Homo sapiens: one gene and its partner. The protein of the gene in region 2 interacts with the protein of the main gene of each other region in a pairwise test. Each region holds a gene or a part of one and is shown on either strand. Other genes may lie near its edges.

The links. The genes of interacting proteins can lie anywhere in the genome.
Region 1: the proteins of NEK1 (region 2) and KIF3A interact in a two-hybrid assay, tested with the Homo sapiens proteins (one study listed by BioGRID and IntAct).

The regions. Positions count from the first base shown.
Region 1 is NC_000005.10:132,727,543-132,734,580, forward strand, and holds part of KIF3A (kinesin-like protein KIF3A), read right to left. Parts: intron 6,937-7,038; coding exon 6,663-6,936; intron 1-6,662. UniProt on the Homo sapiens protein: Microtubule-based anterograde translocator for membranous organelles. Plus end-directed microtubule sliding activity in vitro. Plays a role in primary cilia formation. Plays a role in centriole cohesion and subdistal appendage organization and function.
Region 2 is NC_000004.12:169,399,546-169,406,583, reverse strand, and holds part of NEK1 (serine/threonine-protein kinase Nek1), read left to right. Parts: intron 1-4,723; coding exon 4,724-4,932; intron 4,933-5,932; coding exon 5,933-6,063; intron 6,064-6,226; coding exon 6,227-6,359; intron 6,360-7,038. UniProt on the Homo sapiens protein: Phosphorylates serines and threonines, but also appears to possess tyrosine kinase activity. Involved in DNA damage checkpoint control and for proper DNA damage repair.

The DNA of each region.
Region 1 (7,038 bases), on a different chromosome or scaffold from region 2:
GACCAGAATGGAAGAAACAGAGATGGAAAGGGAAGATGGATGCAGGCAGAGCTAGAGAAACTGACAATGCCATAATCACACAGTATAATAAGGACGGTATTAAACTTTTTAGACCTTATCCTAAAAGCAACATGAAGCCATAGAATGATTTTTCAATCAGAGGAGTGACATCATGATCACTATGGCTATATTGTGGATGAAGAATTGGAGAAAACCAAGGGTCGATGTGGGGAAACAGAGGGCTGGAGTAGTTGGTCAGGACACAGTGTAGTAAGAAAAGATAGCCTTGGATGTGATGGCATATATGAAAACGGTTCCTCAACTAATACTACTCTATTCAGTTAACCTCAACTTTTCTCAGACTTTTTTTTGTGAAAATAATCATAACACACTTTTCAGACTTTTCCGTGAAAATAAATGAATCATACCAGAAGCCATTTTTTACACATGGGAATAAAAAAGTCTTAATTTTTTCAAACTGACTAAGTATTTCAAACTCTGCTATTAGGAATATAACACTGCACTTGAAGCAGAAAATATCATGAGCTCATAGACTGCATTTCAGAATAGACACATTAAATTATTAAATAAAAAATAAGCTTTATAAGGACATCAGCTGTCACTTACTGATCATTTGCTATGTGCTAGGTCATGTACTTTACATGCTTTTTTTTTAAGAGATGAGGTCTTGCCCTGTCACTCAGACTAGAGAGCAGTGGCACGATCATAGCTCACTGCAGCCTCAAACTCCTGGGCTCAGGAGAATCCTCCTGCCTGTAATCCACCTGTAAATAGCTGGGATTACAGGTGCACCTCCCAGCTATGTTTGCATTCTTATTTAACTTTCACCCCAATCCTAAAAAATAGGCACTATTTATTATTATTACTATTATTTAAAGATAATAAACTATGGCCAGGCGGGGTGGCTCATGCCTGTAATCCCAGAACTTTGGGGAGGCCAAGGAGGGCAGATCACTTGAGGTCAGGAGTTTGAGTCCAGCCTGGCCAACATGGTGAATCTCCACCTCTACTAAAAATACAAAAATTAGCTGGGTGTGGTGGCACATGCCTGTAGTCCCAGCTACTCGGGAAGGTGAAGCACAAGAATTGCTTGAACCTGGGAGGCGAAGGCTGCAGTGAGCCAAGATCGCACCATTGCACTCCAGCCAGGGTGACAGAGTGAGACTCTGTCTCAAAAAATACAATAAATAAATAAATAAATAAATAAATATAATAAACTATATTCTGGGCTGGGTGCCGTGGCTCCTGCTATAGTCCCAGCACTTTGAGAGGCTGAGGTGGGAGAATCACCTGAGCCCAGGAGTTCAAGACCAGCTAGGCAACACCTAGGCAACACAGTGAGACCCCATCTCTACAAAAAATTTTAAAAATTAGCCAGGCATGCATAAAAAGGAACAAAATAATGGCACTGGCAGCAACCTGGATGGAACTAGAGACTATTATTCTAAGAGAAGTAACTCAGGAACAGAAAATCAAACATCGTATGTTCTCACTTACAAGTAGGAGCTAAGCTAGGAGGGTGCAAAGGCGTAAGAACGATACAGCGGACTTTGGGAACTCAGGGGAAAGAGTGGGAGGCGAGTGAGAGATAAAAGACTACACATTGGGTACAGTGTACACTGCTTGGGTGATGGGTGCACCAAAATCTCAGAAATCACCACTGAAGAACTTATTCATGTAACTAAACACCACCTGTTCCCCAAAAACTTATTGAAATTAAAACTAAATTTAAAAAAAAATTAGCCAGACATGGTGGGATGCTCCTGTAGTCTCAGCTACTGGGAAGGCTGAAGCGAGAGAATCACTTGAGTCCAGGAGGCTGAGGCTGCAATGAGCCGTTATAGTGCCACTGCACCCCAGCCTGGGTGACAGGGTGAGACCTTGTCTTGAAAAAAACAAAACAAACAGAAAACAACAACAACAACAAAACTATATTCTGGGTCATAAAACAAGTCTTAATAAATTTAAAAACATTCAAGCCATAAAAAATATGTTCTCTAAATTGAGATTAAATTAGAAACCAATAACCAAAAATCTCTAGAGAATTTAAAAATATTTGGAAACTAAATAACACATTTCTAAATAACCCAGGATCAAAGAATAAATCAGGAGGTAAAATAGTATTTTGAACTACATGAAAATGAAAACATAGTATGTCAAAATCTGTGGGATGACACTAAAACAGTACTCAGTGGCAATTTATAGCATTAAACTCCCATATTAGAAAGGAAAAAAGGTCTCAAACCATGGCCTCAGCTTCCACTTTAAGTAGAAAGAAAAGAGGAAATTAAGCCCAAAGTAAGTAAGAAAAAAAAATAAAGATCAGAGCAGAAATAGATGAAATAGGAAACATAAAAACAGAAAGAAAAATTAATAAAACCAAAAGCTGGTTCTCTGAGAAGATCGATAAGATAAACCTCTAGTCAGACTAATCAGGAAAAAAAGAAAAGACGTAAGTTACCAATATCAAAAATGAGAAAAGTTATACCACTACATTCAACATACTAAAAGAATAATAAGGGAATAGTATAAACAACCTTTTGCCAATGAATTTGACAACTTAGATGAAACGGACTAATTCCGTGAAAGACAAGCTACCAAACCTCACTTAAGAAAAAACTGGCTGGGCACGGTGGCTCACGCCTGTAATCCCAGCACTCCGGGAGGCCAAGGCAGGCGGATCACCTGAGGTCAGTAGTTTGAGACCAGCCTGGCCAATACGGTGAAACCCGTCCCTACTAAAACTACAAAAATGAGCCAGGCATGGTGGCGTGTGCCTGTAATCCCAGCTACCCAGGTGGCTGAGGCGAGAGAATCGCTGGAACCCGGGGAAGCAGAGGAGACAGTGAGCCGAGATCGCGCCACTGCACTCCAGCCTGGGCAACAGAGCAAGACTCTGTCTCAAAAAAAGAAAAAAAAAAAAAGAAAAAATAGATAACCTGGCCGGGCACGGTAGCTCATGTCTGTAATCCCAGTGCTTTGCAAGGCTGAGGTGGGAGGACTGGTTGAGTCCAGGAGTTCAAGACCAGCTTAGAAAACATAGTGAGACCCTTATCTCTACCAAAAAAAAATTAAAATTAGCTGGGCATGGTGCGGTGGCACACACATATAGTCCCACCTACTCAGGGGGCTGAAGTGGGAGGATCGCTTGAGCCCGGGAGGTAGACGCTAAGTGAGCCATGATCACACCACTGCACTCCAGCCTGGTCGACAGAGTGAGACCCTGTTTCAAGAAAAAAATAATAATAATAGAAAAAATTAGCCAGGCGTGGTAGCACACACCTGTAGCCTCAGCTACTGGGGAGGCTGAGGTGGGAGGATTGCTTAAGGCCAGGAAGTCGAGGCTGCAGTGAGCTGTGATTGTGCCACTGTACTCCAGCCTGGGTAACAGAGTGAGACCCTGATTTAAAGAGAAAAAGAAAAAATACATAATCTGAATAGTCTTATGTCTATTAAAGAAATTGAATCAATAGTTGAAAACCTTCCCACAAAGAAAACTTCAAGCCCAGATGGCTTCACTGATGAATTCTACCAAACATTTAAGAAATAATACCAATTCTAGACAAATTCTTCTAGAAAACTGAAAAGAAGGGGATACTTTCTAACCCATTCTATGAAACTAGCATTATCACAATACCCAAACCAGAAAAATGCATTAGAAGAAAACTATATACTTACATCCCTCATGAACATGGATGCCAAAATTTTTTTAATTTAGCAAATAAATCTAACAATATATGAACAGAATAATGCATCATGACCAAGTGGCAAAGCTAGTTTCACATTCAAAAATCAATCAATGTAATTGACCATATTAACAAACCTTAAAAAAAAAGATTATTTCAATAGGTGCAGAAAAAAAATTACATTTGACAAAATCCAATATACAATCCAAAAACTCTCAGCGAACTAAGAATAGAAGGGAACTTCCTCAAACCTACAAAGGATATCTGTTAAAATTTACAGACATCATCATACTGGTGAAAGAATGAATGCATTTTCCCTAAGATCAGGAACAAGACCAAAATGTCCACTCTCACCACTTCTAATTTACTGGAGGTTCTAGCCTCCAGGTGCTATCAGGTAACAAAAATAAATTAAAGGAGATTGGAAAGGACAAAGTAAAAACTGTCTTTACTTGCAAACAACATTTTTTTTTTTTTTTGAGACAGAGTCTTGCCCTGTCACCCAGGCTGGAGTGCAATGGCACGATCTTGGTTCACTGCAACCTCCGCCTCCGAGGTTCAGGCGATTCTCCTGCCCCAGCCTCCCGAGTAGCTGGGATTACAGGCACGTGCCACCATGCCTGGCTAATTTTTTTATTTTTAGTAGAGACAGGGTTTCACCATGTTGGTCAGGCTAGTCTCGAACTCCCGACCTCGTGATCTGCCTGCCTCGGCCTCCAATGTGCTGGGATTACAGGCGTGAGCCACTGTGCCTGGCCAACATATTCTTACAAGTAGAAAATCCTACAAAATTTACAAAAAACCCAAAACATAAAAAAACTACTAGAATTAATAAGTTTAGCAAAGTTTCAGGATACAAGGTCAATATACAAAAATCAACTGTGGGTACTAAGAGGGCAGTCATCAAAAAGACAGTAACAAGTGCTGGCAAAGATGTGAAGAAATCAGAAACCTCACACATTGCTGATGGGAATATAAAATGGTGTAGCTACTGTAGAAAAGTTTGGCAGCTCCTCAAAACATTAAACAAAGTTACCATGTGACCTAGTAATTCCACTCTTAGGTATATACCCAAGAGAAACTAAACATATGTTCACACAAAAATCTGTAAAAGAATGTTCAAAGTAACATTATCTGTAATAGCTAAAAAGTAGAAACAACAAATGTTCACCAACTAATAAATGGATAAACAAAATATGATATATCTATACAATATTATTCAGACATAAAAAATAATGAATTGCTGGCCTAGTGCAATGGCTCACGCCTGTAATCTCAGCACTTTGGGAGGCCGAGGCGGGTGGATCACAAGATCAGGAGTTCAAAACCAGCCTGGCCAATATGGTGAAACCCCGTCTCTACTAAAAATACAAAAATCAGCCAGGTGCAGTGGCTCACGCCTGTAATCCCAGCACTTTCAGAGGCTGAGACAGGCGGATCACAAGGTCAGGAGATCAAGACCATCCTGGCTAACACGGTGAAACCCCGTCTCTACTAAAAACACAAAAAATTAGCTGGGTGTGTTGGCGGGCGCCTGTAGTCCCAGCTACTCAGGAGGCTGAGGCAGGAGAATCGCTTGAACCCAGGAGGCAGAAGTTGCAGTGAGCCAAGATCACGCCACTGCAATCCAGCCTGGGCGACAGAGCAAGACTCCGTCTCCAAAAAAAAAAAAAAAGTAATGAATTGCTGATATATGTTTATATGTTACAATAGGGATGAAGCTTGAAAACACTGTAAGTGAAAGAAGTTATTCACAAAAGGCCACATAGCATATAATTCCATTTATAGAAAATGTCCAGAATAGGCAAACTCATAGAATAGATATAGACAGTAAATTAGTAGTTGCTGGGTTGGGGGAAGGGAGGTGGTAATGGATTGGGAGTGACTGACTGCTAATGGATACAGGGTTTCTTTTTGGAGTGATAGAAATGTTCTGGAAACAGACAGCGGTGACAGCTGTACGACATTGTAAATGTACCTATGAACTATAAAGTGTAAAATGGTTAAAATCATAAATTTGATATTTGAATTTTATCACAAAAGCTACCTAAAGAAATCAATTTCATCTCTATATATTAGTAACACACAATCCAAAATTGAAATTATGAAAGCAATCCTATTCACAATAGCATCAAAAAAATACTTAGGAATAAATTAATCAAAACAAGTGCAATACTTGTACACTAAAAGCTACAAAATACAGATGAGAGAAATTAAGATATAAATAAATGGAGAGAAGCTGGACATGGTAGCTGACATGGGAAATCCCAGGGCTTTGAAAGGCCTCAGTAGGAGATTGCTTGAGCCTAGGAGTTCAAGACCTGACTGAGCAACACAGCAAGACCCAGTCTTTACAAAAACAAAAAAATGAGCCAGGTGTGGTGGCGCACAGCTGTAGTTCTCATTACTCAGGAGGCAGAAGTGAGAGGATAGCTTCAGCCCAGGTTCAAGGCTGCAGTAAGCTATGACTGCACCACTGCACTCCAGCCTGGGCAACAGAGCAAGACCCTGTCCATAATTCATTAATGTTTCAACGTTTTAAATGAAGAGAAGTATCATGTTCATGGACTGAAGACTCAATATTGTCAGAATGACAATTCAACACAATCCCTATGAAAATCCTAGCAGGATAAACTTCAAAAACATTATTTGATGTGAAAGAAAACAGATAAAAAAGGTGACATATTATATGACATCATTTATATGACATTTCAAGAAAAGGCAAAATTATAGTGACAGAAAGCAGATCAATAGTTGCTTGGGGGTGGGTCTGCAAATGGGCATAAAGGAAATTTTGAGGATGACAAGGGTGTTCTAAAGCTGGATTGTGATGATGGTTTCACAACTGTATATATTTACTACACTCATCAAACTGCACAGCTGCAATATGTGAATTTATGGCACAGTAATTATGTCTCAATAAGGGAGTTTTTTAAAAAGTAAAGATTCACTTACCATTGTAGCCTTCAAGTACAGAATCAATAATAGGTCTTGCAGTTAAGTTATAAACATCAAGTTGTTTACTCTCTGGTCCAAAAACAGTATCAAAAGTAAATGTCTTTGGAGGTTCATTGGAAGAATCAGTCTTATGTACAGTGATAGTTCCCCTCATCTCATCCACACTGACAGCCTGTTTGTAGCACATTGATTTCTCTCTCTCATTGAGGGGCCGGCACCTAACAACAACCTTCACATTATCGCAGCTTTCTGGCTTCTCTGATTTATTGATCTGTTGGAGATAATATTTACAAATAATGAAAAGAACATTAATTTTTACCCTCATCAGATTAAATTTATAAACTTTAAAAGGCTACTTTTCCAACTCAGTGCC
Region 2 (7,038 bases):
TCATTAGTAAACAGCATTAAAAGATTTTCTGAATTTATATGTAAAAAAGAGGGGATAACTTACCTAGCTCTTTTTTTTAACTCATTAACCTCTGCTTTTATGTCTTCTGTATATTATTTTTATCTATTTTAAGAGACAGGGTCTCACTCTGTCACCTAGCTGGAATACAGGCTGGACACAGTGGCTATAATGTCATTAGTAAACAGCATTAAAAGAGTTTCTGAATTTATATGTAAAAAAGAGGGGATAACTTACCTAGCTCTTTTTTTTAATCATTAACCTCTGCTTTTATGTCTTCTGTATATTATTTTTATCTATTTTAAGAGACAGGGTGTCACTCTATCACCTAGCTGGAGTGTGGGTTGGACACAGTGGCTCACACCTACAATCCCACCACATTGGGAGGCCAAGGCAGGAGGAATGTGAGACCAGCCTGGGCAACATAGTGAGACACCATCTCTACAAAAAAAAATTTATTTTTTCTTTTGAGGTGGACTCTTGCTCTGTCACCCAGGCTGGAGTGCAGTGGCATGATCTTGGCTCACGGCGACCTCTGCCTCCCAAGTTCAAGCGATTCTCCTCCTCAGCCTCCTGAGTAGCTGAGATTACTTGCCACCACGCCTGGCTAATTTTTGTATTTTTGGTAGAGATGGGGTTTCAGCATGTTGGTCAGGCTGGTCTCAAACTCCTGACCTCAAGCGATCTGCCCACCTTGGGCTCCCAAAGTGCTAGGATTACGGGCATGAGCTACCACACCTAGCCAAAAAAAATTTTTTTAATAGCCAGGTTTGTTTCCACATGCCTTGTAGGTAGTCTCAGCTACTCAGGAGGCTGAGGTGGAAAAATCATTTGAGCCCAAGAGTTTGAGGCAGCAGTGAGCCATGATCATGCCACTGCACTCCAGCCTGAGCAACAGAGTGAGACCCTGTCTCAAAAATGAAAAATAAATAAGCTGGAGTGCACTGGCATGATGATAGCTCACTGCAGCCTCCAACTCCTGGACTCAAGCAATCTTTCCACTTCACTCTCCCAAATAGCTAGGATTACAGGTGTGAGCCACTGGGACTGGCCAAGTTAATTTATTATTGCAGAAAAATAAATTGATAAATTTAGTGTAGCCTAAGCATATACTGTGTTTATAAGTCTATAGTAGTGTATAGTAATGTCCTATGATAAGTACCCTATAAAGTTTACCATTTTTTATCTTTTATACAGTGTTTTCACTGTACCTTTTCTATGTTTAGATATATTTAGAATAGACAGATAGCATTGTGTTACAGTTGCTTCCAGTACTGAGTACAGTCATATGCTGTACAGGTTTGTAGCTTAGGAGTAAACAGGCTCTACTTTGTAGCCTAGGTATGTAGTTAGCTATACTGACTAGGTTTGTGTAAGCACATTCTATGATGTTAGCACAACAATGAAATTGGCTATAACAATGCATTTCTCAGAATGCTTCCTGTTGTTAAGCAATTCATGACTGTGCTCTACAGTTTCCCAGGAGAATGACCAGAAAGCTCCACATCTACCTCTTGCCATATATGATTTCAAAGCCATGCCAATGGGGAGTTAGCAGGTCGACCAGTTTTGTTCATGTGTGTGTGTGCACATGTGTCAGTGCACACATGTTTTCTGCATGTAATTGGATTGTTTTCACAAAATTGCTTTCTTTGTGATTCATGGGGAATCCTGAATCTAGGAGGGAAATTTAACAAGCAATACCTCTGAGAGCTGTAAGGAGTGATAACCCCTTAGATTGTGCACATGTACCCTAAAACTTAAAGTAAAATTAAAAAAAAAATTTTTTTCCATAAAAAAACAAAAAGAACCTTCCTTTACCTTGTTCAGTGTTGGTCAGCCCTCTCAACTGTCTTAGACAAATGTTACACACTTTTTGGTGTAATAAAACCAGAGTTTCCTAGAGTAAGGTGAGAAGGTACAGTGTGTTCAAATCACCTGGATAAAAAGTTATAAAATATTAGAATTTTTATAATTTATTTTGTAATTTCTTTGAACTTGTTTCTGCTTTTTACTTTTACCTTTGGAAAGAACTTGTATTTTGATCTGATTGAAAGTATTATATCACTCTCATAATGTTTTCTTCTGTATTGAGTTACGTAGGATCGATGCCGCTGGCACATTTTATTTTCTGGTTTTTGGTTCTTTTTTAAGCCTTGCCCTTGCTTCTTAAGTTTCTGGTGAAACTTCATTTTTAAAAGATTGCCTTTTTCATTTTTCCTAGAGTTCTGTAGATTTTTGCTAATGACCTTACAATCTAGAAGAAAAGTTACCTTTTTACTTTTGTTTCTTCTACTTGACTGTAGTCATTAAACACTGAAATATTGTGTTTTTATTAATCCTATTGGAGAACATAACAACATTCAGGATTTTTATTGTTGACAAACTGCTAACTAAAATTTTTTTCCCAAAAATTTTATGAAATCATTTATTTTTATCTGAATGAACTACAGCTTATTTGTGGCTTGTGTTCTTTTATTTTTTCTTTCTTCCAAGCTGCTAAGTTTGTGTTATGCATGTGTTCTTTTAATGAACAATTGATGACAGAATTTTATTTTAAAACTTAAGTTAGAAGCCTTTAGTATTAATTGAAAAATTCGAAAACCAAGTTGTTTTTAAAGTACGTTATTTCATATTGTTATAGGGATATTTCACTTGATGTTTGTCTTTGGAAAATTATTATTATTTTTTTTTGTCTAAACTTTAGTCAAGATTTTATAAGATAGCCAACTAAAAACTGAATTCAAGACCAAATTTTTTTAAGTACCTTAAAGTTTTTTGGTGCTCATTTAGTAAAAGATCTTAATCTTCTCATACTTTCTTACAGTGGCAAGCTTAGCTGCCTCAATTGAATACCATCTGCAGAGGGTACTAATTCCTCTAGGCCAGCCACTAGATGATTTTATGAACAGGTCAATATTTACTCATTGTAGTAATGGTACATAGCAGGTGTGCATACTTCGTTGATCTTTTTTTAATAATAAAATTTTTTGGGGGAGATAGGGTCTCACTCTGTCACCCTGGCTATAGTACAGTGCTGCAATCATAGTTCACAGCAGCCTTGGACTCCTGGGCTCAAGCAGTCCTCCTGCCTCAGACTCCCTAGTAGCTAGGAATACAGGCTCGTGCCACCACGCCTAGCTAAGTTTTTTGCAATTTTTTTTCTAGAGGGGTCTCGCTATGTTGCCCAGGCTTGTCTCAAACTCCTGGCCTCAAGCAATCCTCTTGTCTCAGCCTCCCAAAGGGCTAGGATTACAGGCATGAGCCACTGTACCCAGCCTAAATTAGTCTTGTAATTATATATTAAGTTAAATGCTACTAGTAGGATGATTCAAGAGATTAGACACTATTTTCTCATTCTAATTAGATGCTTTGCTTTTCTATAGCTCCTACAAGTCAAATTGTAGGCGTTTGTACATATAAGTACAAAATAAAGATATTTCTACATAAAAAGATTATTTACTCTATTAATGGAAATTATATTGACAGTCTTACACAATAGTGTTTATATTTTAGTTCTTCAGTAAATATTTGATTGGAGTCTAAACTTTTAGAAAGGCCTTAATTAGCCCTTGTGTCCTGTTAAGCATTGCCTTCCTGATAGATGAAATCCCGGCTTAGGTACATAATCTCTTTTAGAAGTCTTCAGACATCTAAAACATCAGTTAACTCCTTTAGTCTACAAACTTTTCCATTTACATTCCATGTTAGGATAAAGAAGCAAATCATAAGAGGAAAAAAATTTTTCTGAGTATGTTTCTCAGATATTACAGAAGTGGTCAAAGACTAGATTTCAGTGCTCTGTCATTTACTGACTATGTGGCCTTGACCAAGTCATTTAAACATTTTGGTTCATAGTTTTCATGTCTCTAAAGTGATTTTTTGTGGATAAAATTTGAGTAGTAGGATAAAAATGTTTAAAAAACAAAAGTTCTATATAAATGTAAGGTATTATTTGTATAAGTTATTTCATTCCAGCATCTATAATCCCATGAAAATAGAATGAATATTCTTACCAATACTTTGGAAACAAAATTCTCCAGTGAAGAATTATGATGGTTGGTATAGGCTAGTTACACAGAAAATCTATTATGTATTTTAGAACATTTTTAAGAATAAGCATCTAAAGATAAGATTTCTGGTGACCATTTTATTCACTGGGTCATCCTATTAACATGAATATAAAATTTCCTAAGTATTTCTATTTCTAAAAGTTCAAATGCCCAATGGGCATGTATATGGAAAGCCTTTTGTATAGTGTCTAGCTATTAGCCACATGGATATTTTGAAAATTACAAAATTCCATAAAAGAGAAAATAATTTACTATTATTTGTTTTAGAAAAACTTCTATAGTCTGGCCTGTTAAAATATCAAAACATTGTTTCAGAATTTAAGCAATGAGTAACATCGATAGTTATGTGATTCTCTTTGGCAAGTTGGGATCATTTTAAACAAATCATCTTCTGGCTTATATATTCCAGAATATGTGTTGTGTGATATATTTATCAGTTGTATTCATCCTCAATTTACCGGTGAAAAACAATGTAGGCTTTTTCCAGATTTTTTGTTATCTACTATTAGGATTTTTTAAGAAGTGCCTACGTATTGAGTAGAAGTAAAATTTCAGTATGAGGTAGTTTTAGTTGTTTAACTTGGTAAATTTCAGTATGTTTGAAACTTTTAGTTATACTTTTTAAATTTCAGTGTGTTTGAAGAAACTGACACAGATTTACAAGAGCTGCAGGCCTCGATGGAACAGTTACTTAGGGAACAACCTGGTGAAGAATACAGTGAAGAAGAAGAGTCAGTCTTGAAGAACAGTGATGTGGAGCCAACTGCAAATGGGACAGATGTGGCAGATGAAGATGACAATCCCAGCAGTGAAAGTGCCCTGAACGAAGAATGGCACTCAGGTGCATGATCAGAGTTTTGGACCTTTTTCTTTTTCAGTTTACAAATATTTCAAGTAGAGTGTATTTTTCTAATCTCTGCTGTGAACCATTTCCAACTTTAAATACAACTGAAGCATGCCTCTGGGTCTCTCCCCTTTTTTCATTCTTTTTCTTTTCATACAAATGTGTGATTTTCCATTTTTTATTAAAGTTTTTATTTCTTTCCTATTATGTCAATGCTTTTTTGAAGCATTTTTATTCTAATCTCCATTTATTGACTGATTTTTCCAGTAATAAAGATAATAACATTGTTTTCTTGGCATTCTATATTTTAGAAAGAGCTTCTGCATATATTAACCAGCAGAGTTAACACTGAAAGCAGTTTTTAAAGTACTAAAAACTCTTTTCGTAAATTTGTAAACTTTCTCTTTCATAATATTACCCCTAAGATGCATAGAAAGTGTGTCTGTTTCAATAACTATATGATATTAATTTAGGAAGAAAAGCTAATGTGAAAAGACTAAGTAATTTTTTTCAAAGTATGTCGAGCACGTACATGACAAAACATATTGGCCATTTATACTTTCTAGGTGCTTTCCTGAAATGTAATGATGTATGTCTTAGGTTGTCTACCTTTTGCAGGCTTTTCCATGGTGTTTCCCGTGTTTATTACCAACTTTTGAAAATACTAGTTAGGGTTAGCTGCTTCAAAGCAAAACATGGAGGTGTGCTTTTTCCACTTTTTTTTTTTTATTTAAGTAACATCTCTAGGAGTGTTTTGATTCCAACCTGATTTATTTTTTATATCTATACATGAAAAGTAACATTCTTGTTTAGACAGATTTATACATTTTTTTTGCCAAATAAAGGACAAATATTAAAATGACAAAAACTGTTTATAATGAAAGTAGAAGTAGTCTATTTCAATGGCATTATTCATTTGTCATAGAATTTTAGTCTATTAGGGTATGAGTTATTCAGTCTTTTTAAATCAAATCTCTATTTTAATTTTGTTTTTTAGATAACAGTGATGGTGAAATTGCTAGTGAATGTGAATGCGATAGTGTCTTTAACCATTTAGAGGAACTGAGACTTCATCTGGAGCAGGAAATGGGCTTTGAAAAATTCTTTGAGGTTTATGAGAAAATAAAGGTAAGTGAAAAGTCAATTAAAACACTTAAAATGTGCTATGTTTGAAGGTTGAAGAAATGTTGATAATCTGTATTGGTCATTAGATTTATTATAAATAAAAAGTGAAGTCTGCAATTACAGAAAGTTATTCAAATATTAATTTATATTTGGGAATTTGGTATAGGCTATTCATGAAGATGAAGATGAAAATATTGAAATTTGTTCAAAAATAGTTCAAAATATTTTGGGAAATGAACATCAGCATCTTTATGCCAAGATTCTTCATTTAGTCATGGCAGATGGAGCCTACCAAGAAGGTAAGATTTCCTCACATGTCTGTATAATTTTCAGTAAATGTGAGAAAAACAAGATGATACATGTATATGAATCAGCTTACATCACATCCATTTTGTGAAATCTACTTGGGAACTATATAACTTTTAAGCAATAATAAAATTAACTTTGTCATGTACTTTTACTGATCTGTCATATACTTTTACTGACTTAAGTCCTTTAAGTCCATATTTTTAATTTAATTTACAAGTAACCTTTGAATGAGGTTTTTAAAAATCTTACTAGATAGATTTTTGGACAGCTCTAGCAATTAGAATAATCCTAGCCGGGTGCCGTGGTTTATGCTTGTGATTCCAGCTACTTGGGAGGCTTAAGTGGGAGGATGGCTTGAGGCCAGGAGTTTGAGACCAGCCTGGACAACATAGTGAAACCCTATCTCTACACACAAAAAAATTTTTAATTAGCTAGGCATAGTGGTGGGCACCTCTAGTCCCAGCTACTCAGGGGACTGAGGTGGGAGGATTGCTTGAGCCCAGGAGTTTGAAGCTGCAGTGAGCTGTGATTGTGCTACTGCACTCAGCCTTGGTGACAAAGCCAGACCCTGTCTCAAAAAAGTAAATAAATAAAAATAAAGAAGATTATAACTTAGAATAATTCATTTTTTTTTGTTTTTTTTGAGACAGAGTCTTATTGCCCAGGCTG